Regions from separate parts of the Homo sapiens genome. Here region 1 is linked to region 2. Evidence: fine-mapped expression QTL. A gene starts in region 2. The other region holds a variant in brackets. All regions are shown on one strand. Distances are from middle to middle. Region 1 overlaps TOR1AIP2 (torsin 1A interacting protein 2). Region 2 holds the start of TOR1AIP2 (torsin 1A interacting protein 2).

Region 1 (12,285 bases), 35 kb before region 2:
ACACAGGGTGCCGATTGGTGTGTTTACAAACCTTGAGCTAGATACAGAGTGCTGATTGGTGTATTTACAATCCCCTAGCTTGACATAAAGGTTCTCCAAGTCCCCCACCAGAGTCAGGAGCCCAACTGGCTTCACCCAGTAGAGCCCCCACCGGGGCCGCAGGTGGAGCCGCCTGCCAGTCCCACGCCGTGCGCCCGCACTCCTCAGCCCTTGCGTGGTTGATGGGACTGGGCGCCGTGGAGCAGAGGGCAGCACTCGTTGGGGAGGCTCAGGCAGCACAGGAGCCCACGGAGTGGGGGAGGCTCAGGCAGCACAGGAGCCCACGGAGTGGGGGAGGCTCAGGCATGGCAGGCTGAAGGTCCCAAGCCCTGCCCCACGGGGAGGGAGCTAAGGCCTGGCAAGAAATCGAGTGCAGCGCCAGTGGGCCGGCACTGCTGGGGGACCCAGTACACCGTCCGCAGCCGCTGGCCCGGGTGCTAAGCCCCTCATTGCCTGGGGCCGGCAGGGCCGCCCGGCTGCTCCGAGTGCGGGGCCCGCCAAGCCCACGCCCACCCGGAACTCCAGCTGGCCAGCAACTGTCGCGCACAGCCCCAGTTCCCGCTCGCGCCTCTCCCTCCACACCTCCCTGCAAGCTGAGGGAGCCAGCTCTGGCCTCCGCCAGCCCAGAAAGGGGCTCCCACAGTGCAGTGGTGGGCTGAAGGGCTCCTCAAGTGCCACCAAAGTGGGAGCCCAGGCAGACGAGGCGCCGAGAGCGAGCGAGGGCTGCGAGGGCTGCCAGCACGCTGTCACCTCTCAGTATGATAATAAAAGATGTTACTGAATTAATGGTTTATCTTAAACATTGATTTGTATACTTAAGAATTAGTGATCCTAGAAAGTGTCAGATATAGGTCAAAAAGACAAAGTGTCTTTTTTTTTTTCCTGAGACGGAGTCTTGCTTTGTTGCCCAGGCTGGGGTTCAGTGGCGCCATCTCGGCTCACTGCAACCTCCATCTCCTGGGTTGAAGCAATTCTCCTGCCTCAGCCTCCAGAGTAGCTGGGATTACAGGCACCCACCACCACGGCTGGCTTTTTGTATTTTCAGTAGAGGCAGGGGTTTCACCATGTTGGCCAGGCTGGTCTTGAACTCCTGACCTCATGCTCAGCCCACATCAGCCTCCCAAAGTGCTGGGATTACAGGCATGAGCCACTGCGCCTGGCCTTTTTTTTAAGACAGGGTCTCACTCGGTCACCCAGGCTGGAGTGCAGTGGTGCAATCATGGCTCACTGCAGCCTCCACCTCCCCAGGGTCAGGTGATCCTCCCACCTCAGCCTTCTGAGTAGCTGGGACTTACAGGCATGTGCCACCACATTCAGCGAATTTTTGCATTTGTTTTAGAGACAGGGATTTACCATGCTGGCCAGGCTGGTGTCAAACTCCTGGGCTCAAAGGATCCACAAACCTCAGCCTCCCAAAGTGCTGGGATTACTGGCGTGAGCCACCACGCCTGGCTAGTGTCTCATTTTTAGTGTGTGTATGGGGGCCTTCTGTGAGCCCTAAAGTCATGTGGGCAGATTCCACAGTAATGAGTGCCCTAAACATATACATAATACGATCTGCCTACTCATTTCCTTTTCTTAAAGTAGATAATACCTTGGACCAATAGCTAAGATCTTTTCTGTTTAGCTTGATGGAGCTGCTTCTGCACCAAACATTCTATGACTCGAATTGCAACTTCAGACTTAAAATCATTTTTATTGTATCCTGTTTAAAATGACAATTCCTACAGCAACTAAATAATTCATAGCCACTCACTCCCTTATTAATCAGTATTGAGGCCTGTTCTAGTGTACGGTAGAACACTAGTATGTAATATCCTCTAGTGGTGAGTTTATGCATTAAGAAAATCTCGTTGCTGCTAATCTACTGTTGACGTTTGTGGAATGAGTATTAGGAAATTCTGTGTTCTTTGCCTTCAGGCTCATCTTATCGCTTGACTTTAGCTCTTTTCAGTGAAAGCTCATATGTTAAGATATGGTAACTCCCAAAGTTCCTATTTTTCTAAACTGCAAAAACAAGTCTTTCAGATTTTCAAAATTCAATTCAGATTTGTTAGAAAATGTTTCTATAAAATGTGTTAATAAGACCTTTGGTTTTAGTTGGGTATGGATGGGGGTGGGCCGAGCAGGAAGCTGGGAGAAGGTGGGTGAGGGGCTGAGATGGGTATTCAGGTGCTTCTGCTCTGTAATTCTGGTTTGGCAACATCTTAAGGCAGAAATTCTGAACACACCCCCACCTCCCCCACTCCCAACACATAAGGTAAGGGATATCCACACTTAAAAAACACATTCGGCCGGGCGCGGTGGCTCACGCCTGTAATCCCAGCACTTTGGGAGGCCGAGGTGGGTGGATCACAAGGTCAGGAAATCGAGACCATCCTGGCTAATACGGTGAAACCCCGTCTCTACTAAAAATACAAAAAAATTAGCTGGGCGTGGTGGCGGGCACCTGTAGTCCCAGCTGCTCGGGAGGCTGAGGCAGGAGAATGGCATGAACCCGGGAGGTGGAGGTTGCAGTGAGCCGAGATCGCGCCACTGCACTCCAGCCTGGGCGACAGAGCAAGACTCCGTCTCGAAAAAAAAAAAAAAAAAACCACATTCACAGGCTGGGTGTGGTGGTTCACGCCTGTAATCCCAGCACTTTGGGAGGCCGAGGCAGGCAGATCACCTGAGCTCAGGGGTTTGAGACCAGCCTGGACAACATGATGAAACCCTTTCTCTACTAAAAATAGAAAAATTTAGCCCAGCACTGTGGCCTGTGCCTATAGTCCCAGCTACTTGGGAGGCTGAGACAGGAGAATTGCTTGAGCCTGGGAGGCGGAGGTTGCAGCGAGGGGAGATTGCACCACTGCACTCCAGCCTGGGCAACAGAGCAAGACTTTGTCTCAAAACACACACACACACACTCACAACAGCACACCCTGGGATAGCAGCAATTCCCAGGGATCTACTTACAACCCCAATGTTTCTCCCATACTCAGGAAAGCTTCGTTAAGTAGGAATAGCACTCGAAGAATGCTACCCAAGAGCTGCAACAGATTCTAGGCAGGGTCTGCCCTATACCATTTCACTGATGGCCACAAAATGCCACCTGACAACCCTCACAGGATTCTCTAGCTCCTCAGCTTACTGCCATATGAGGGCAGTTTCCTTTCCCACCATTAATCACCACATGCCCATTTCTATAAACCTGCTATTTTGGGAAATTTAATCAAGAATCAGTCCGCTGAAAAAAATTCAGATTTATTCTTTATTCTGGTAATGGCCAACTAATCTGAATAAGGCACATCATCAGCATCTATAAGAAACAAATACAAAAGCAATCCCTGTTATACAGAAAGGGAGTGCAGAGAAGTGGGACGTTAGTATTGGCAAAGCACACATATTTTTTGTTAAGCACAAATAAGCAAAATGCAATTGAGTTTGAAAGTCAGTGTGCTGTTTCTTTTATGACAGGAAAGGCAAATAGATTTAAATTTCCTGTGCTCTCTGATGAACCAGGAGCAACTGCCTGGAGCTTTGTGTTGATGCGTCCTCAGGCCTAGAAGGAACACAGAGAGTAGGGCTGTGACTGCCGGGGGCTTGGCCAACTCTGCCCCATACAATGTGACTCAGCCTGTTGCTTCCCAAGTCTAAAATGTTCTTTTTGGTTCATGTAACTGCGCTTAGCCAAAGGCAAATTTAGTTTATAAGCCTCAGTGAGGAAAAGCAGGAGACCATTTGCCAAAATAAGAACCAATTTATGGGCTTTTCAAGACATCACAGCAAGCGGGCACAGATAATGCAGATAATACTGGAAGGAAAGGTACTGAAGACTAAGGTATTTACCTTTTTGCAGATTAGGGGATACTGATTATGTTCTCAGGCCATTTGGATTGGCCTATAGAGATACAGAAGTTATAGCACAGTTTACCAAACATCGCATGTTCTCACTCATAGGTGGGAATTGAACAAAGAAAACACTTGGACACAGGGCAGGGAACATCACACACTGGGGCCTGTCAGGGGGTGGGGGGCTGGGGGAGGGATAGCATTAGGAGAAATACCTAATGTAGATGACGGGTTGATGGGTGCAGCAAACCACCATGGCACGTGTATACCTATGTTAACAAACCTGCATGTTCTCCACATGTATCCCAGAACTTAAACTATAATAATAATAATAATAATAATAATAAAGAAGTTATAGCACAGTTTATTAGCTAGAAATGAATTTTAACAGCCCTGTCTCAGTCTGAATGAGGCAAATTTAGGCCCACATCATTAGGTATTTCACAACTTAACACCTAAAATTTAACATAAATTTACAAAAATAAGGCTTATTTTAAAGTCATCTGGAGAAACTGTTTTACAGGTATCTTAACTTTATTTAGCTCTCTGTAGAATTAACATCTTTGCAAATATATTATTCAACCAAGCATTTGCCATAAAGATAAGCATCAACTTTCCCATTGGACAAGTGATAGTGTTCAAGCTACTTGACTTGTGAAAAACAAAAAACCACCATGACTTCTCAACAAATACATTTTAAAATGAAATATGCTCAGGCTGATAAACAAACAAGATATTAAAATGGAGACTGACATTGAACTACATAGTCAACTTGAAAAACACAAGAAGACAATGCTCCTATAAAATGATATATTATTGGCTTTACAAAGACATACTGGTTTATGTTTACAACTATGTTTTATTTTCAAATGGTAAAGGAAAGGCTTCATGTTGCTATTTGAAAGTACTTCTCAACTAGCCGGGCATGGTGGCATAATTCCTGAAGTAGGAGGATCATCCCCTTGAGGCCAGGAGGTCCAGGCTGCAGTGAGCTGTGATTGTGCCACTGCACCATAGCTTGGGTGACAGAGTGAGACCCTGTCTTTAAAACAAAAAGAAAGTACTTCTCTGCAAGTAAATTTTATGGATATAATCTTTATTCTGATTAAATAAATGATTACCCTAATCAGCTATTATTTATTATTTTCTATTTAACATTCATTTTTGAAGTGCCAGAGACCTGCCTATGTCGCATAAAGTTTGGTCAGATATATGCAAATGCAGTGTTGGTGAAGATCATCTGAATAATGATCACTTTCACATGCCATATTAGTTATATTTTAGTATCACTGCTCATTGTGCTTCCTCTCTTTAATAAAGTATAAATCAAGCAATTAAAAGCTGTGTAGGCCAGTCGCGGTGGCTCACGCCTGTAATCCCAGCACTTTGGGAGGCCGAGGCGGGTGGATCACTTGAGGTGAGGAGTTCGAGACCAGCCTGGTCAACGTGGGGAAACCCCGTCTCTACCAAAAATACAAAAATTAGCTGGGCGTGATGGCACGTGCCTGTAATCCAGCTACTTGGCAGGCTGAGGCAGGAGAATCGCTTGAACCTGGGAGGCAGTGGTTGCAGTGAGCCGAGATATCGCACCATTGCACCCCAGCCTGGATAACAAGAGTGAAACTCTGTCTCAAAAAAAAAAAAAGGCTGTTAAAGGGTCAAAACCATCTCAGCGGCTAGCACTATTTAGTGGAGTCACTAGCTAAGAGAATGGTGGGTTACCAGCATGCTGAGCCTTATTAACCACCATACACTTGGGGGCTTCCAAATGAAATGTATTGAAATGTCTTTATTGATTGCTTTTTAAAATAGAAATATGAAACAAATTAGCATTACTATTTTAGTGATATGAACACCTTTAGTGATATGAACTTGTCCGCCAACTCCTGGAAACTAACCAGAAAACCTAAAATTTACCCTAAGGGAAGAAAAACCTCAAGTCCAAAGACAGTTTCTGATTCTACCAATTGGTTCTACAATTCTGGGATTACTCAAGAAGTAATTTATATTAATATACAGTGTAATGAAAGTTGTTCTGTAAGAGTAACTAAATGGCAACGTTTAGGTACCACATACAATATTGTATGCCCACAAATCATTTTTCTAAGTCAAATAAGCAAATTATCTTTGACAATAAAAGACGAATTACTAGACACACAAAAGAAAATCTGAAACCTTAAAAAATGTCAATAGGCCGGGTGCGGTGGCTCACGCCTGTAATCCCAGCACTTTGGGAGGCCAAAGCGGGCGGATCACGAGGTCAGGAGATCGAGACCATCCTGGCTAACACGGTGAAACCCTGTCTCTACTAAAAATATTTTTTTAAAAATTAGCCAGGTGTCGGGGCGGGCACCTGTAGTCCCAGCTACTTGGAAGGCCGAGGCAGGAGAATGGCATGAACCCAGGAGGCGGAGCTTGCAGTGAGCCAAGATTGCACCACTGCACTCCAGCCTGGGCAACAGAGCAAGACTCCATCTCAAAAAAAAAAAAAAAAAAAAAAGTATAGAACAAATAGAAATTAACCTAATACATTAGATAATAGATTTGAATTATCTGTACATTTATAAAATATGGTCTTATGTTTAAAAATAGTCATTTTAGTCATGAGAAGACCCAGAGCTAATATACTGCTTCTTTTAAAAATGATTTTTGAGGCCAGGTGCAGTGGCTCGTGCCTATAATCCTAGCACTTTGAAAGACCAAGGCAGGCGGATCAATTGAGGC[C/T]AGGAGTTCGAGACCAACCTGGACAACATAGCAAAACCTCGTCTCTATTAAAAATACAATAATTAGCTGGGCATTGTGGTGCATGCCTGTAATCCCAGCTACTTGGGAGGCTGAGGCACAAGAATCACTTGAACCCAGGAGGTGTAGGTTACAGTGAGATGAGATTGTGCCACTGCACTGCATTCCAGCCTGGGTGACAGAGCAAGACCTTCTCTCAAAAAAAAAAAAAAAAAAAAAAGAAGTTTGGTTGGGTGCATTGGGTCACATCTGTAATCCAAACACTTTGGGACGCTGAGGTGGGAGGATCACTTGAGGCCAGGAGTTCAAGACCAGCCTAGGCAACACAGTAAGACCCTGTCTCTATACAAAATAGTGTGGTAGAGTGGTGTGGTAGTCTGCACTTGTAGTCCCGGCTACTCAGGAGGCTAAGGTGGGAGGATTGCTTGAGCCCAGGAGTTTAAAGCTACAGTGAGCTATGATCAAGCCACAGCACTGCAGCCTGGGAGTCAGAGTGAGACTCCATCTCAAAAAAAAAAAAAAAAAAAAAAGACTTTTGAAATAGCAGACAGAAAACTGACAACACCCTCAATTGATTGCACTATACATGGAAGGGAAAATGTTTTTAAAAAGGCTAAATTAAAAATTATGACTTTAGAAATTTATTTTTCTAAATTATTTTGAAGAGAAATGATGAAAAACCATATTCAACTGAATGAAGAAACAAGAATATGCGACATACTGGTTCCTTGACAGATCTGAGGTAGCACAGGTCAGCAGGCCAATATAATAGTTATACAAGGCAACACTGGTTTTGTGGATGTAACGCTAGCATCTAAGATCTAAAAAGACAGAAAAAATGTGCATATGGGATACAGATTTTCCTTCAACTTCCTCTGCTTTTATACTGGATTGACAGTGATATCACATTCACCATGCTTTAACTTTTTGTTCAGGTCTCTTCCCAAATCTCTTGGAAGCTTCCTTCGAAGTCCCAAATGCAAATTCTTCCTTCAGGTATGCCCCTACACTCAATTGAGCAATTACTCAATTGTAATCTTTTTAGGTATCAGTAAAGATCCCTGTATCTTCTTAGTGTTTCCTAAAATCTTTCCATACTTTAATCAGACTTCTTAGCTATATACATATGATCTCATATAATGGAGAGGCCAAAACCCAGTTGAAATAATCCAGGATTATGGTAATAGTCTATATAATGGAACAGACCCTTTGTTAGGTCGAGATCATTTTACTAGAGTTCTGCTTTCAGAGCTCAAATGCTAATCAACTCTATCTCCATACAAACTGTTTTCAATCTTTCTTACAATCACAGAACATGGTCCGTCAGTACTGAACATCAAAACCTCTGAGAATCTACCCACCATTTCTGCTTCCTCTCACTAAGTATAACATCTCTTAGATTTCTCTAATTTTTAACCTAATGGTACTTCTATAACTAGTTGGTCAAGAAATGAGCTGCATTACATAATGTTCCATCACTGCATAGAAATAAACTGGTAAAGTTATGCCAAATGTTCATATAAAATTTACTATTAAATTGGTTATTCAAAAATAAATTTTTAAAATAAAACAAATAAATTGGTTATTAAAATCTGTTCTGCTGAAAGAGTCTACAAACTCTTACCCTAGACAAGTATAAAATTCCATGCAGAGGGGACAGAAATGACGATTAACAGAAATGAACAAAAGCATCAGAGACATGCTAGTAAATGCTAGCTTATACATTCTGCTGTTCATGTATAGATCTTTATCCTTCATAAATAATGTATCTATACAATAAACCTGTATTTCATCTTCCTACTCATAAGATTTAATACATTCATTTTTTAAACATATTTCCTATCTTCTAAGATGTTTTTTCACTTAATCAATGGTTTTCAAACTCGAATATCAGTGAAACTCTTTGTTCCAATGAAATCTCATAGAGAACCCCAACATATAAAACAGTTAAAAGCAGAACTGCTCTGATACAAAGGGGAAGGGTGCCAGTAGACACAGTTTGAAAATCAATGCTGTAAATTGTTCAAGAAAAGCTGAAGTAAAGATATAGCCAATTGGAATTTCTTCATTTCCAATGATTATAAACAATTTCCCCACTGGTTCTCATTTTTAAGAACATTTGAGTACAGCTGCTTATACCTCAGCTGAATGAAATAAAAGCACAGTGCCTTACATGTAGTATTTAGGTAGGTACTTAATGGTTTGAATTCTTATTTCTTTTATCATACTACTCAAAACTGCAAAATTAATATAAGATATAATCCCGTAACTTTAGATTATTAAAGTAAGGTTTGAAAATATTCAACATGTGATAGAAAAATTTTCTAAAGGTTATCATTGCTTCATAATTCTAATTGCTTTAGTCCAAGTCCAAACATTATCGAAAAGGTTCTTCAGAGTCTCACTCAAGAAAAAAAAAAAATCACTCTGTAGTTACTCTAAGAAGTAAGAGTATCTTCCTGTGCAATGTTGCTATATTTTAGAATTTAAAAAAAATTCTCATATATATCATCGATATTTCAAACCTGATTTGGTCCAAAGAAAAAAAGTCAGGTTAATTTTTAGCTTTGTCAAGGCTTAGATTAGAAAGATTTTACAAGGAATAAAAAATAAAAACTTGTTTCTAAAATAAGCTCATCTTTGTTTTTCAGGCTATTTCCTCAAGCTATTTTATCAACCTCCTTCCATATAAATGGAAGGTCTTTAAACAAACTTTTTCATAAACATATACCTTCTGTAACCAACTCTGTGCTTAGCTTTAGAAAAGGCACCCCTGTTCTTCTATGCTACTCACTGGCTGGACTGGCAGTACCAGGTGTGAAATTCGGCTCCACAGCCCACTCAATTTGTCTGAGTCCATGTGGTTGAAGGAGGTGGGAGTGTCAGAGTTGGTAAACTTGGCCCAGAGTAAGTCTCTCACTTTTTCTTCCGTTTCCCTTGGGCCTACACTTGCTTCTAATGTTTCCTCCTCTAGCAGAACAGTCAGGACCAGGGCCACATCTTTAAAGGCAGCATTCTCATGATCACAATACTTATAGAAGATCAAAGTGGAGCCGGCAGGGAAGGATTCGAAGTGGTGTACCACAGCAGCCTTCTGGCCATTCTCAAACCCATAGCTCAGCTCCAGGTCAACCAACAGCTTGACCGTGTCACTGTCCTGCCAGGTCCTTCCAGCCCCATCAATCTGAATGGGAGAGACTTTCTGGGAAGAGGTGTAGGCATCTGCAACATGGTGGCTCAGGCACTTCAGGGTCTCTCTTCCCTCCCGAGCTGCTGTAAATATGATGGTGGCTGGCTCAGTGGGGTTGGAAGCATTGAGGTGCTTCTGGAGAAACTTCCGTCCTCTCTGCCACAGGAAGGAACTCTGGCCTGGAAATTTATCTTCCAATTGGCTAAACTGGGCCAAAAAGGCCTCCAAAGCTGGATTTTTGGGCACTTGCTGGGCTGGAGAGGAATAGTAGCTATTCACAGAACTTGCCACAACAGCCACAACCAGGACGACAAGAATCACAGGGCCTGTCAAAAGAATGAAAAAGGAATAGAAAATTACAGAGAACACGAGCCAGAAACAAAGCCTGTGGTAAACTGAAATGAGGCAGAGATACCAGCAGGTTTTACTAGGAGCAATAAGTTTCTTTTGCATAAATTGTTTAAACTTTCAATCCACCAGAAGTACCTTTTCTCTAATCTCTTCTCAGATTTAATTATTTGAAGATATATCTGTTAAAAGATAAAAGCTACGTGGAAGAGTTAAGTACTCGGTAAAAAATTTTTAAAAATAAAAGGTAAAAGCTGAGTCTATGTATTTGTTATTATAACTAATGATGTAATTTAGACATGAGTGATCAAGATTTTTTTTCATCTTCTCAATGCACCTACTACCTATAGCCGACCATTTTTTTAGGAGTCATAACTTTAAAGTGCACTTGAAAAATTAATATTCTCTAATTAGAAAGGCAGTTTTTGTTTCTTGTTTAGGAAAAGCCTTTCCTATTGTGAGAAATTCCATTTTGTTAAGCACAGCAAAATATCAGCCAGCACCCGTAAGGGAAAAATCCCTAAAACTCTAGTGTACTATTTTACTATGTCTCACTACCAATCATTAAATAAGTATATATAAACACAATGTTAAAACTGTTTAAATCTGCTAGTTTTCTAGGCATTTTCACTGAGGATTTCTGAAAGTGAATCAACACTGCAGTAAAACCAGGTTTGTTCTCACCATAGCTCCAAAAACCCTTTTTATTAATCTGTCTCATGGTGTCCTGTGCATTCTCTTTAATTTCTTCCAATTTTTGTGTTTGTTGTGGATGACTTCCAGCCTCTGGAGAGGAAAAGAATCAATATTATTTTTAGGCAGTACACTAATGACAGTATGTATACCTTTATATCTCTCACCAAACCAAAGAATGATTTGACTAAAAGGCTTTCTATACCTTGGCCAGGTACGGTGGCTCATGCCTGTAATCCCAGCACTTTGGGAGGCTGAAACAGGTGGCTCACTTGGGGTCAGGAGTTTGAGACCAGCATGGCCAACAAGGTGAAACCCTGTCTCTACTAAAAATACAAAAATTATCGGGCATGATGGCGGGCGCCTGTAATCCCAGCTACGTGGGAGGCTGAGGCAGGAGAATCGCTTGAACCTGGGAGGTGGAGGTTGCAGTGAGCCGACATCGTGCCACTGCACTCCAGCCTGGGGGACAGAGCAAGACTCCATCTCAGAAAAAAAAAAAAAAAAAACCAAAGTTAACATTTTTCCTGTCTTTTCTTTAAGACTATTACTTTTATTCTACTTAGAAGGATAAAATGAAATACTGTGAAATTCATTCAAGGATAATGTTGCTATATTCACAATTCCTTACTGCCTCTTATATCAAAGACAAAGACATTTAAATAGTGCGGCCAAACTTACCTAAAATGTAATTCAGCAAAATGTATAAAATCAAGAAGGGATTTAAGAAATGTTGGCTGTACACAAGATTCAACTTCACAGGGTAATTGTGCTCTAATTCCAGTGTTCGAGTTTCACATGGTTCCTCAAGACCCCGAATATAAAAATAACAGAGGCACTAAGTTCTAAGATAGGAGAGATTAGTGTACAGTTGCAAAATAGCTTACAGAAGCAAATTTGAAACTCTTAGTGAAGGAGATATACAAAGCAAGGAATATAAGGTGAAGAAAATTCACGAAATATGTAAAAATCCAGATGTAGGGAGGGCATGCCAAGCTTAAAATATGTGGGTGAAAAGAAGGGCAACAATTTTTAGCACTCTAAGCTAAATCACACTAGAATCTAAATTTGTGCTTAACCCCAGCCAGGTACTTCTATTAGCATAGATGAGTAGGATCATCTTCACTTATAAAGGATTGTTCCTATCACCCCAAAGAGTAGGTTCTTAAAATATCATATCATAGAATCTAAGAACTGAAAGGATCTATAATGGACACCTACTCCGGCCCCATTACTTAACCTATCATGAAAAAAGGTCCAGGGATATTAAAGATCTTGCCCAAGGTCACATAAAGAGATGTAGCTGGCTGGGCGCAGTGGCTCACGCCTGTAATCCCAGCACTTTGGGAGGCCGAGGCGGGCGGATCACAAGGTCAGGAGATCGAGACCATCCTGGCTAATACGGTGAAATCCCGTCTCTACTAAAAATACAAAAAAAAAAA
Region 2 (12,285 bases):
ACAAAGTGAAATCTTAAGAGTTTCCTATTTCACAACTACCTTAGATAATGAGAGATTAAGGAGTATGAAAAAAGGAATCATTCTTCTTTTTGAATTCATATAATCTAAAATAATTTTTTGTTGAAAATAAAATGCTCCTGGAAAAAAGTCAACTTGTTTTGTGAGAAACTACTTTTAATTTGGCAATCTTGAGATCACTGAGAGAAGGCATATGGATGACAATCTTCAGTACTATTTAGTACACACACTGTTCCCTCTTTAGAACAGAGAAGCCAAATAAAAAATATTACCCAAGGTTAGAAAATAGCTGCAGAATGTTCTCCTCTCTCTTGCCCCAGGAACTGACAAACGAAACAGGTGTGTATGCATTGCTACCATACTTTTTGAGGGGCATGGCCATAAAGGAGAACAACTGGTTTGGAAACCTACTGGTACATTTCTATCTATGTTGCTCTAATGCTCCAAAAGCCCATGGTCCAAATTCTGTCTACAATTTCACTTCAAAACACCAGCAGCCAAACCTTTAAGGCTAATACACAACTTTCAACAGTCAGATCTGGTGCCAAGCTTAGGTATTTCTATAACTTGTGCTAGCTATTTATTGTCTGTCTAAAACTAAATTTCTAAGTCTTGCCCACTCCTCTGTACCATATCCACTGTCATAATATCCCAGCATTATTATTTTCACAATTTTTCGTTTCTCTGTATTTTCACTAACTGGTGACTTATTCTAGATTTTTGAAAGAAGTTTGAAAAAGTACTAGCCTCGGAACAAAAAGCACTCTACTTCCTTAGGGAATTGTTTTTTACACAGGAATTGAATGCCTGGCGCAGATCAAATTCTACAGATATTTTCTGAGTGCAGAAAGCCTTCCTTTCCTACTTACCCTTTTTCATACTCCCTCCCAACTCCTTTGACTTGTATCTCTAGTTTCGGTTGACCACGTAGAGGTATTAAGCTATGCACGAAGGATCTAAGAGTTTGCTAAGATTTCTGACAGTGGGTGGCACAACTGACTGCCAGGTTTAGTTCAACTTCCCTAATCACTTTTAGTATCTACTTCAAGTCAACATATTTTTATTAAACTTTTTATTTTGAACTAATTTTAGACTTACAGAAAAGTTGCAAAAATAGCACACAGTTCCATTATATCCTTCATCTAGCATCTTACATAATTAAAGCATAGTTATCGAAAACAAGAAATCAACATTGGCACAATTCAATTAACTAGAGGCCATATTCAGATTTCACGATTTCTTTTAGTTGTTATTTTTCCTTAGTGTCTAGTCTATGACAGTTCCTCAGTCTTTACCTGTCATTTGTGACCCTTTCTTGTCTTTGTGACCTTGACACTTTTGAAGAATACTGGTCAGTTATTTTGGGTTCGGTGTTTTTTGTTTTTAAAAATAGACACGTGGTCTTGCTATGTTGCCTAGGCTGGTCTCGAACTCCTGGGCTCAAGCGATCCTCTTGCCTTGGCTTCCCAAAATGCTGGGATTACAGACATGAGCCTCTGCACCTGACCTGGCCAGTTATTTTGTAGAATGTTCCTCAGTTTAGAGTTTTACAATATTTTATCATGATTAGAAAGATAAAAAGATTATGCATTTTTGGCAAGAATAACAAACGTCACAGAAATGCCGCTGTGTCCTTCTCACTGCCTCTTTGGGTTCATGATGTCCTTGTCTCATTACTGGTGATGTTAACCTTGATCACTTTGTTAACATAGTACCTCCACTGTCGGATTACTATTTTTTCTTTGTAGTTAATAATTATCCTGGGAGAGATACTTTGAGACTATGTAAATATTCTGATTTTCCTCTAACTGGATTTTGTCTGCAACAACTACTATGGTACTGTTTCCCTAATGGTGGTTTTGTATTTCCTTCTTTCCTTCTATGTTTATTAAATGGAATTCTTCTGTTAGAGTTGTCCCTTCTCCCCTACTTATTTATTCACTCAGCAATATCAGTATGAACTCATTTTATTTTATGGGTTAAAGTCCAATACTATCATTATTCATTTTATTGCTCAAATTGTTCCAACCTGGATACCAGGAACTCCTTCAAGTTGGCTCTTGGGTCCTTTCGACAAGGTCCCTAACTTTTTGTAGCATTTCCTTACTTTCAAGCACCATAAGATTTTTCAGGCTCATCTTGTATTTTCTCTGCTCCCGCACTAAATCAGCCACTTCTCTAAAAAGTCCTAGTTCCTTTAAAAACCAAGATCTGAATGCTCAGTGCTACTGGGGTATAACTATCAAGTCAACAATATGGACAACAAGTGTTTGTTTCCTTACTATATTAAACTCACTAGCTGGGAATCACTAGCATTACCTGGGAGCTTGCTAAAAGTACAAATTCAGGCCCCAACCTAGACCCACTAGACCAGAATCTCTGAGAGCCTCCTACAGGAATTTATGTTTTAACAGATTTGCCAGATGACTCTGGTGTTCACTATAAAGTAGCTGGGTGTGGCAGTGTGTGCCTGCAGTCTCAGTTATTTGGGAGACTGAGGTGGGAGGATCGCTTGAGCTCAGGAGTTCAAGTTTGCAGTAAGCCATGATAGTGCCACTATACTCCAGCCTGGGCAACACAGCAAGTCCTTGTCTCAAAAGAAAAAGAAAAGAAAAAATAGTTATAAAGTACCTTTATACAGTACTTCAAAATATACTGTAGTCAGGTATGGTGGCTCATGCCTATAATCCCAGCCTTTTAGGAGGTTCAGGCAGGAGAGGACTGCTTGAGCCCAACGGTTCAGAGACCAGCCTAGGCAACATATCGAGACCTTGTTCATACAAAAAATACAAAAATTAGTCAGGTATGGTGGTGTGTGCCTGTAGTCTCAGCTACTTGGAAGGCTGAGGTAGGAGGATCACTTGAGACTGGGAGGTCAAGGATGCAGTGAGCCGTGATTGTGCCACTGCACTCCAGCCTGGATAAGAGAGAGAGATCCTATCTCAAAAAAGAAACAAACAAAAAACTGTAAATACTGTTACTTTTATACAAAGAAAGTTATAAGTCAGCCTCCAGGATCAAGTCCAATCTACAAATATGACCTAACATCCATAAAGCAAATCTACAAATATAGAACCCAATATAGCACTATCCTCTAAGGTCAGACTGCCTAGACCTGAATGACTGCTCCAGCTTCTGACTTGGTGTTTCTCTCTCTCTCTCTATGCCCTTGGTTTTCTTTGTTTTTTGTTTTGTTTTTGAGATGGAGTCTCGCTCTGTCGCCCAGGCTGGAGTGCAATGGCGCGTACTCAGCTCACTGTAACCTCCGCCTCCCAGGTTCAAATGATTCTCCTGCCTCAAGCCTCCCGAGAAGCTGGGATTACAGGTGCCCGCCACCACGCCCAGCTAATTTCTTTGTATTTTTAGTAGGGACAGGGTTTCACCATGTTGGCCAGGTTGGTCTCAAACTCCTGACCTCAAGTGATCCACCCACCTTGGCCTCCCAAAGTGCTGGGACTATAGGCGTGAGCCACTGCACCCAGCCCCTGGCTAATTTTTTCCTTGGTTTTCTTAATTACAAAATGGAATAATAGTACTTAGATGAAAGAGGCAGTGTGAAGATCAAATGAGATAATGTGCAATACTGGCAACCACAGGGGCACAAAAGAAGTCCTCAAAAACCGTAAATAATTATTATTTGAACTATTAAAGGCAAAACCAGACAGCTTCATTTATATAATTAAAACCCCAGAAGACACCAATGTTTCAAAATTTGACTTTTTCCAAAAATGTCATTACATTTACATGATAGATACTCATGGTCAAGGGCTGAAGGAAAATCTCTAAAAATCAAACAATTTGATTTGTTGAGGTAGTGGAGTTATAGGTGAATTTTCTTCCCAGAAATTTCGATTACCAAAATTATGTGCACAGTTCATACCAGAGCCATGGCACCAAAAAAAAAAAAATCATGTGCCAGCTCCTTTAAATATTAGTAAAGAGGAAAACAGCCCACACAGTAACAAAATAGGAATTCAAACCCAGCTATGACTCCAGTCTATGCTCATTACCAATGTTAGGGACACGCTTCCTTATTCCCAAGTGCTTGATTTCTGTGCAAAATTTATGGTAATATATGATCGCCCTATGAATTCCTTCTTGTAGGACACAGTTTAATCCAGTAGTTCATATGATGTAGAAATATTAATGAAATTTTAACACAATCAAAATTCTAAATGGTAAATAAAACAGCCAATTCTTCATTCTTTAAATTTTTTTGGAAGTTGTCGAATCTCCAAGTTTATGGGCCTTCACAGTTGACTTAGTGAACAACCTCAAAGTGATAAAGCAGACAAGGCTTTTTGAAGCAAACATTCCTTCAGGAAATTCAAGTGGCACTTCAAAGAAGTGTGGACTTTCCTGGAATAGAATTTTGACTTCTGTGTTCCATGGAAATGAATGGAATACAGAAATTACTTCTTAGGCAAAAATAAGTTATATACAAGATACAATACATTATTAAAACACCCAATAATCCTCAAATAATTAGCTACATTCTGAAGTTAATTTATTTATAAATTATTGAAGCTCTCAAGCTAGCATTACCTCTACATTAGGAAAGAAACTAGATAAAATAGTTCTTAAATGAGTCACGCAAGGTTGCGTAACAAACCAGCAGAAAAACAGGTAATCAAGTTGTGGACTGCACGTTCAGCATAATAAACATTACTGAAGACAGGCACTCAGTTTTCATAACAAATGTTAGTTTTTCAAACTATTCTAATCCACACAAAGTCTTCCAAAAACATCTGTAGTTACTCTACCATGAAGTTCCTTTTTTTATTAAATGTTTCCACTGGCCTTTTATATCCTCATCTTGTGCTCAAAAAAAAAAGCTCAAAAAACATGGATAACTGCCACAGCTTAAAACAAAGAAAGGATCTCTCATACAGATCCAAAATAAAATGTGTTAAAACCTAAAGACAGGTAAAACAAAGCCAGTATGTTTAATCTATGTAACTCATTTCTGGATCTGTGTAACAGTATAAAGTCTGATAATTAAGCATTACTCATAAAGTAGAGAGTACTATGAAATTTGTTAAAAGAAGGAAAAGGCACAAACTTTTTCATCAGGTATTAAATACAATTGGGAGAATGGTACATATATAATATGTAAGCAAAATGGTAGGAGGTCTTACTAAAACTTCAACTTTGCCCTTTTTAGCACCAATTTTTTTTTTTTTTAAGTATTATCTTTTCAGGATTAAGATTATGAATGTCGAGAACCTAGGCATGTTGGGAATGGAGTAATCGCCGCCTACACTAGTAGGCAAATTTCCCACTCACATTTCGAACCCTAAAATAATTCGGCTTCTCACCTTAAAGTCTAAACCCAAAAATTTACTCACATCTTAACCCATTTAATATTTATAAGATTCAGTTTCTTTTTATCCCAAAACAAAAATATACCCCCAACCTACCTCGTTTACTGTTTGAGTGAGGCCAGGCGTGGTGGCTCACGCCTGTAATCCCAGCACTTTGGGAGGCTGAGGTGGGAGAATCGCTTGAAGCCAGGAGTTCGAGACCAACCTGGGCAATACAGTGAGACCCTGTCGCTATAAAAATAAAAAATAAAGTAATTAGTAGGGCATGGTGGTGCGGGCCTGTAGTTCCAGCTACTTGGGAGGCTGAGGCGGGAGGATCCCTTGAGCCCAGAAGTATGAGGCTGTGGTGAGCTATGATCACGCCACTGTACTCTAGCCTCGGTGACAGGGCAAGTACCTGTCTCAAAAACAATAAAAATAAAAATACCATTTGTGCGGTACGAAGGTGGGGGTGGGGAGGGACCGTTTCTGAAAGTCCTTTTCAAAAATTCAAGATATCAGTTTCAATACTAAAACATGGAAAAGCTGCATAGTCATTTTGTTTACTTACAAATTCTGGCGAAGTTTTAAATCGTAAAACTGTTAGTATCAGGAGAGCCCTTCGAGTATTCTCTCCGCTCCACACCGCTCGGCTGCACCCAGCGGCCGCCGCGGCCCGAATGTCGTCCAGGGTCCCCGCCCATATGACAAACACTTTCCGCCGGAAGGCGCCCGTGGAATCCTGGGACTAGTAGTCTCCGTGCCCTGCCTTCTGCCTTCTCCATCCTTCACCCTCTACTGCCAGGTCGTCTGACCCAGCGACAGGCGCGGTAAATGCGCGACCAAACCGCAGAGGTCCCATGCAATCTCATGCTGACAGGATTACAGGCATCTCTGTAAGACGTCGACCACCCTGACCTGAAATTCATAGACTGAAGAAACTCATAGGACCAACACAGTGAGCAGCAGTACCAAATGATAATGGCAAGCACCATGTCCTGGAACACACCCTCTGTGCCATTAAGAGGAGCATGTAATCCAATGAGTTGCCTAATCTAAACCTCAGTTTGCTCGTGTGTCAAATGGGGACAACGTTACTTACCTCATAAGTTTGTTATTAGTAGATTAGATGACGTATGCAGCATTTCTGTTAAATGACAGTAGTGACAAAAAATAGCTGTTTTGATCTACTAATTTTATAAATGTGAAAATTAAGAGATGGCGAGCAATTTACCCAAGAACATACAATTTGTTGGGGGAAAAATGAAGTAAGTCTAAAATTCCTGTTCTTGACCTACAGCAATTCAGGACAAATCTAACCAAATTTCAAGAAGAAATCTATTCATGTAAAACTCCCTTCCCCTTTCCTCTTTTTTTTCCCATAACAGTCCTGACCAACACACTATTTTACTTATTTTGATTTTTGCCCGACTCCTCCCATAGAATATAATCTCCAAGAAGGCAGGAAACATTTTTTGTCTTTTAGTCTATTTTGTTCACTGCTGTATCCCCAGCACAGAGAACAGGGACTGCCTACTACACAGTAGCTCAAGTATTTATTGAATTAATAATTCCTCATTTAATGTGATTTTTGGTGCCTTCACTTCTCAATCACCCTCTCTTGGCAGAAGTGACAGGATTTGGTAACACTCTTGGATGGTGTTTAATAATTAACTGCAAGTCCTAATTCAACAAAAAGAATACTATATTCCATTCACTTTATTGTGTTTAATTAATTTCAGTATAACATTTCCAGGAATTTTCATTTGTATTGTCATTAAAATATTTTTCTATCATTTGTAAGACTGGGGAATAAATGGAGCCAGCTACTATGTCTTTAATTAACTTCCTCCTGTTTAATATTTTAATCATCTTTTCCTTATTAAAATTGTTTGCCTACTTCATTTGTACTACTAAGTCACAACGGATAGATTTATCTCTTTAAATAAATGAACTTCTGCTTACCCTAAAGCAAAAAGTTCCTGTACAAAAAATTTATTGTTCTAAAATGTTTCATTTAAAATAATTATTTTGGCCAGGCGTGGTGGCTCACACCTGTAATCCCAGCACTTTGGAAGGCCAAGGCGGATGGATCACCTGAGGTCAGGAGTTCAAGACCAGCCTTGCCAACATGGCAAAATCCATGTCTACTAAAAATACAAAAATTAGCTGGGCATGGTGGCAGGCACCTGTAATCCCAGCTACTCGGGAGGCTGAGGCAGGAGGATCACTTGAACCTGGAGTTGGGGGAGGCTGCAGTAAGCCGAGATTGCACCACTGCACTCCAGCCTAGGCGAAAGAGCGAGACTCCGTCTCTAAATAAATAAATTAATTAAAAATGAAATAAAATAACTGATTTAGGAACCCAGTCTCAAGAGCACAGGATTTCCAGACCTAGCCCTAATAGTTAAGTGTGTGAATTAATGCCATTTAATCTGAATTGTAATTTTTCGTGTTTCTGTCGTTCCCAATAAATGACAAATTCCCTAAAGATAGTCTTCCTCATTGCTGGCACACGTTTGATAAGTAAATGAATTATTAAGTGTATTCTTTGTTTTAATCATTTCTTTTCTTACCGGTCTTCTTTTTTGGGTCACTGAATTCCTCCAGATTTCTCAAATTCCCAAAGTAACTTTAATATCCAGAGCTGAGGCATCCTTTTTTAGTGGCCCAGCGCATCCCTTATAATATTGGCTATGACTCTACTGTCACTGTAATGTCACCTCTTTTCAGCCACTCTTATAGTCTGGATAATAGCTACAGCAGAGTATCTAGTTTCATAACAGTTTAGCTTTGCCTCAGAGCTAGTGATGAAAGTTTCGTATCTGTAAGGTTTCTAGGTGAAGGAGGCAGTCACAGTAGAGGTAGGTTTCCTTATGCTTACAACCTAGATGAGAGGGAAAATCCGATGCATATATATATGTGTGTGTGTGTGTGTGTGTGTGTGTGTGTGTTAGCATTAAAGTTACCATACCTCTAATTTTACAGTAAGTGTCTCATTAATTTAGTTGAAAGGCCATTCCTAAGCCTTTACAAGCAGTTTTAATTACAAAATATGCATATTCTGATTATTCAATAATATGCAGAACCTCTCCTCTGATTGTTCAATATGTAGAATCTCTTGTCTCTTTTTTAATTTGTCCCTCAAACCTAAGTTTTACAAGCCTGTATCCAAGTTTTATAAGCTAGTATCCCAGTTTCTACATAGTCATCTGTCTTGGTAAAATGTTTCAAGGAGACTTTAATGTTCATAATATGAACTCAATATATTACTATAAAATTTATATTTAATAATTAAATCTATTAAGGAACTTATACTATTGTGTTACTAATGAGTAATGTAATAGCCACTTTAAAGAGAAAGCCCTGCTTAAAACATAAATAAAAGCCACGTATTACCATATCAATACTTTTGAGCATTTTGTTGGAAGAGTAAATCTAGCTAATTTCCGAAATATACCATCTAATCCAGACTGACAAGGAAGAGTATCCTTTTCATTTTTCCTTAAAAGACAAGAAGAAAGAAGAAAGAGAGACAGAAAAGAAAGAAAGAAGTCTCTCTTTTGTTACTGCAGTTTTTAAAAGCTATATTGTACATAAAGCTACAGTAAACTAAGCTCCTAACAGGCCAAACCTTATCTCACTCTAAAACTGTAATTCCTCCTGCCTGTGGCCAAATTTATGGACAATATTAGTAAAAACATAGTACACAGTCGGGCAGGGTGGCTCACGCCTGTAATCCCAGCACTTTGGGAGGCCGAGAGGCGGATCACGAGGTCAGGAGATCGAGACCATCCTGGCTAACACGGTGAAACCCTGTCTCTACTAAAAATACAAAAAAATTAGCCGGGCGTGGCGGCATGCGCCTGTAGTCCCAGCTGCTGGGGAGGCTGAAGCAGGAGAATGGCGTGAATCCGGGAGGCAGAGGTTGCAGTGAGCCGAGATCGCGCCACTGGACTCCAGCCTGGGTGACAGAGCAAGACTCCGTCTCAAAAAAAATAAAATAAAAATAAAAATAAAATAAAAACATAGTACACATTACGACTTAAGTAGTTGAAATTTGTGCCAAGTTTGAGCAACAAATGAGTTGCTCAAAAACATTTTAAGGTGATTACTTGGAAGAATAAACAAACACCTTCAAACTTTTCAGAATCGCTCATTGTAACTGGTATCCAAATTACAATTTTTTAAATCTATTCACTCCAATCATACAAAGCCCTACAAGCAGTTGTATATTTGAAGGCAATTTAAGCTTTCTTTCAATAATTATTCAGACTTTACACGAACTTAATCGACCTTCTCTGAATGTGTCTAAATTTGGTTAGGTATTTGCAGATTAGCCACATCTGTAAACATTTGTATAAGGAGGTGAAACAAATAGATTTTACCATGCTTTCTTATTCCATAAAGTCCATAAAGCATTCTAAATCAAATGTAGAGTATCACGTCACATCCAGAATAAAAGTAAAAATAATGGATCACAACTTAAAATTACAGTGCTGTCTTTAATTAAAAAACTTGTTCATTTCTCACTGTGCACAATGTAGCACTAACATGGTCTTCCGAACACTGCTGCTTGGTATAAAACCGAGAAATATTAAAGACCAGGAATAAGGTTATGTGTCCTATGGGTACATTTCGGAAAAGAAAATACATCCAACGAGTATGACTCTAGATAGGATTTTGTACACCCTCAACAAGTGACAAAATTCAAAACTAGGTAACCGCCCTCATAAGGTACTTGAAACTAAAATTTTTGCCACGAAAACATGGCATGTGCAAAAGTTCTCTCTCTGGCCATCACTCCTGCTAAGGACACTGGGAAGGACATGGTCAACGTAGCAGTCGATCAAAAAGATTCCAGGGAAACTGCGCAACAGCCTGGGGCCGAGAAGCGAAACTTGGGTCTTCTCCACCCTCGTCGCACTCCTTTTCCCCGAGACTTGGTACTGGGAGATAGGACGGGAGTCTCCTACACGCAGTCAACACTTGCCACGAGCGGCTAGACTTAGGACAGGCAAGTTGCCCTGCCATCCTTCTATCGCCCCCACCCCTCCTTTACTTAAGGGCGATGGCAGAGACGTCCTCCTCCCCCTTCTCCTCCTCTTTGGTGCCTCCAGCCAGGAGGCGGGAGCGATCCACAGCAGCTGACCCAGCTCAGGCACTGCCTCTCTCACAGCCCTCAAGACACACCATGGGCCCAGAGGCAGGTTTGCTACACAGCAGCGACGACGCAGGCGGCGGCCCCAGCGACTCGCAACTGCCTCCCTGACCACAGCGGCCACCGCCCAACACCCCCGAGAAGCCATCGCCACCACCGGCAGGAGAACCTAGGGTCCATAAAGCCATCTTCGCGATCGACTAAAGCTACGTCAACAACTATGGCGGGCGACGGGCGGCGGGCAGAGGCGGTGCGGGAAGGATGGGGTGTGTACGTCACCCCCAGGGCCCCCATCCGAGAGGGAAGGGGCCGGCTCGCCCCTCAAAATGGCGGCAGCAGCGATGCGCCTGCGTACAGAACTCCTCCGTCGCGCCAGGGCCGGCGGGAAGTGAGGTTCTCGGACGAGCCGCCAGAAGTGTACGGCGACTTCGAGCCCCTGGTGGCCAAAGAAAGGTCCCCGGTGGGAAAACGAACCCGGCTAGAAGAGTTCCGGTCCGATTCTGCGAAAGAGGAAGTGAGAGAAAGCGCGTACTACCTTCGGTCTAGGCAGCGGAGGCAGCCGCGACCCCAGGAAACCGAGGAAATGAAGACGCGAAGGACTACCCGCCTTCAGCAGCAGCACTCAGAGCAGCCTCCGCTACAGCCGTCTCCTGTTATGACCAGGAGAGGGCTGCGGGACTCTCATTCCTCTGAAGGTGAGGACCGCGGAGGTAACAGTCCCAGCCGCGAGCCAGGGAACGCGCGGGGGCGGGCGCGCGCCTCGGTGGAGCTCATGCCCGCCTGGGTACTAAGTACTGGGATTGGCTAAAGGGTATTCCTCAGCCCCCTCTGGACTTGTGCCGCCGTGCAAGGGCCACCCTGACCCGCAGCGGGGAAGGAAGCGCCGACCGGAGGAGTGGAAAGATGGTCGTGTGGAGCGACCCGGGCAGGGCTGGGGCGCTCTGCCCAACATCGGGCATCAATTTAGGGGAGTCAGAGCTGCCTTTTTCTGCAGGCCTTCACGAGGGGACAGCGAATTACTGCAGGGTCGGTTTCATTTCGGTTCCCTCTACCCTGCGGATGTTTCTACAGAAACCACTTCCATTTCCTTCTTTAACGCTCGCGGGCCAGAGTCCCCAGCTGAGGATCTAACCTTTCAGTCTTTTTCCCTCCTCACCCAGGTGGGCAGAGAGGAAGGAGAAATTTTGTGAGTGGGCATTTCGAGGGATTGCTGAGTTTAGTGAATTGATTTGAGACCTCACCCAATACTTTCACCGAAATGGGGTAACTCATTTTTCCTGAACTGATGTTCCCCAGTGTTTGATAACTTGAGCTGATTGCTGTTTCTCCAGTGTGGTGGTCCCTGCCAAAAATCTGCCACTTTGGTGGCCGTCACTGTAACCTCAAGTAGTCTGGCAAATCAGACTGACAAAGTAACCTGAAAAACAAGACTATTAATTAGAGTTTTCGTCTAAATGGACAAAAGGGATGCTGACAAAGTGAGTGTATAGTGTTAGGTAAGTCATAGGTGAATCAGTTTCCTTAATCTATCCTCTCCCACCCTGCCCCCCCCATTTTAGGACCTAACACTGAGTCACAGATGAAGTTTCATGTTAATCCCATGTAAGGCACCTGTGAGGTAAAAATCAGCGGACCTGAGTCACAATGGGATGACATAGTTTGTGGTAGACTATTGATAGGCGGAGGAGTGGGTTTTCAGCTTAGAGCACGGTGATAGGCTGCAAGTTTACCTGCTGACTCGTGAAGGTACTGACAGATTTGAAGACTTGATTTTGGAAACTTTATGTTAAAGTTATGTCAGTT

The links. PIP is the estimated chance that this variant, and not a neighbour inherited with it, causes the effect.
Region 1: its variant is fine-mapped to the expression of TOR1AIP2 in lung (TOPMed, PIP above 0.99).

What each region holds. Positions count from the first base shown.
Region 1 is chr1:179,836,701-179,848,985 of GRCh38, forward strand. TOR1AIP2 (torsin 1A interacting protein 2) reads right to left here. Exons shown (of 7, transcript NM_001199260.2): 6 at 10,835-10,936; 7 at 3,276-10,128. The coding sequence ends at 9,371. Among named protein-coding and RNA genes, the nearest start is that of LINC02818, 6.3 kb to the left of the region's middle. The variant C/T (reference allele first, on the strand shown) is at 6,595.
Region 2 is chr1:179,871,801-179,884,085 of GRCh38, forward strand. TOR1AIP2 (torsin 1A interacting protein 2) reads right to left here and starts at 6,003. Exons shown (of 7, transcript NM_001199260.2): 1 at 5,893-6,003; 2 at 5,439-5,573. It overlaps TOR1AIP1 (torsin 1A interacting protein 1), which reads left to right and starts at 10,485. Exons shown (of 10, transcript NM_015602.4): 1 at 10,485-11,177. The coding sequence starts at 10,703. LOC139427322 reads left to right here and starts at 10,516. Exons shown (of 1, transcript NM_001436163.1): 1 at 10,516-10,593. The coding sequence starts at 10,516. The coding sequence ends at 10,593. RefSeq lists enhancers at 5,978-6,337, 9,851-10,389, 10,302-10,411, 10,390-10,927, 10,432-11,191 and 2 more.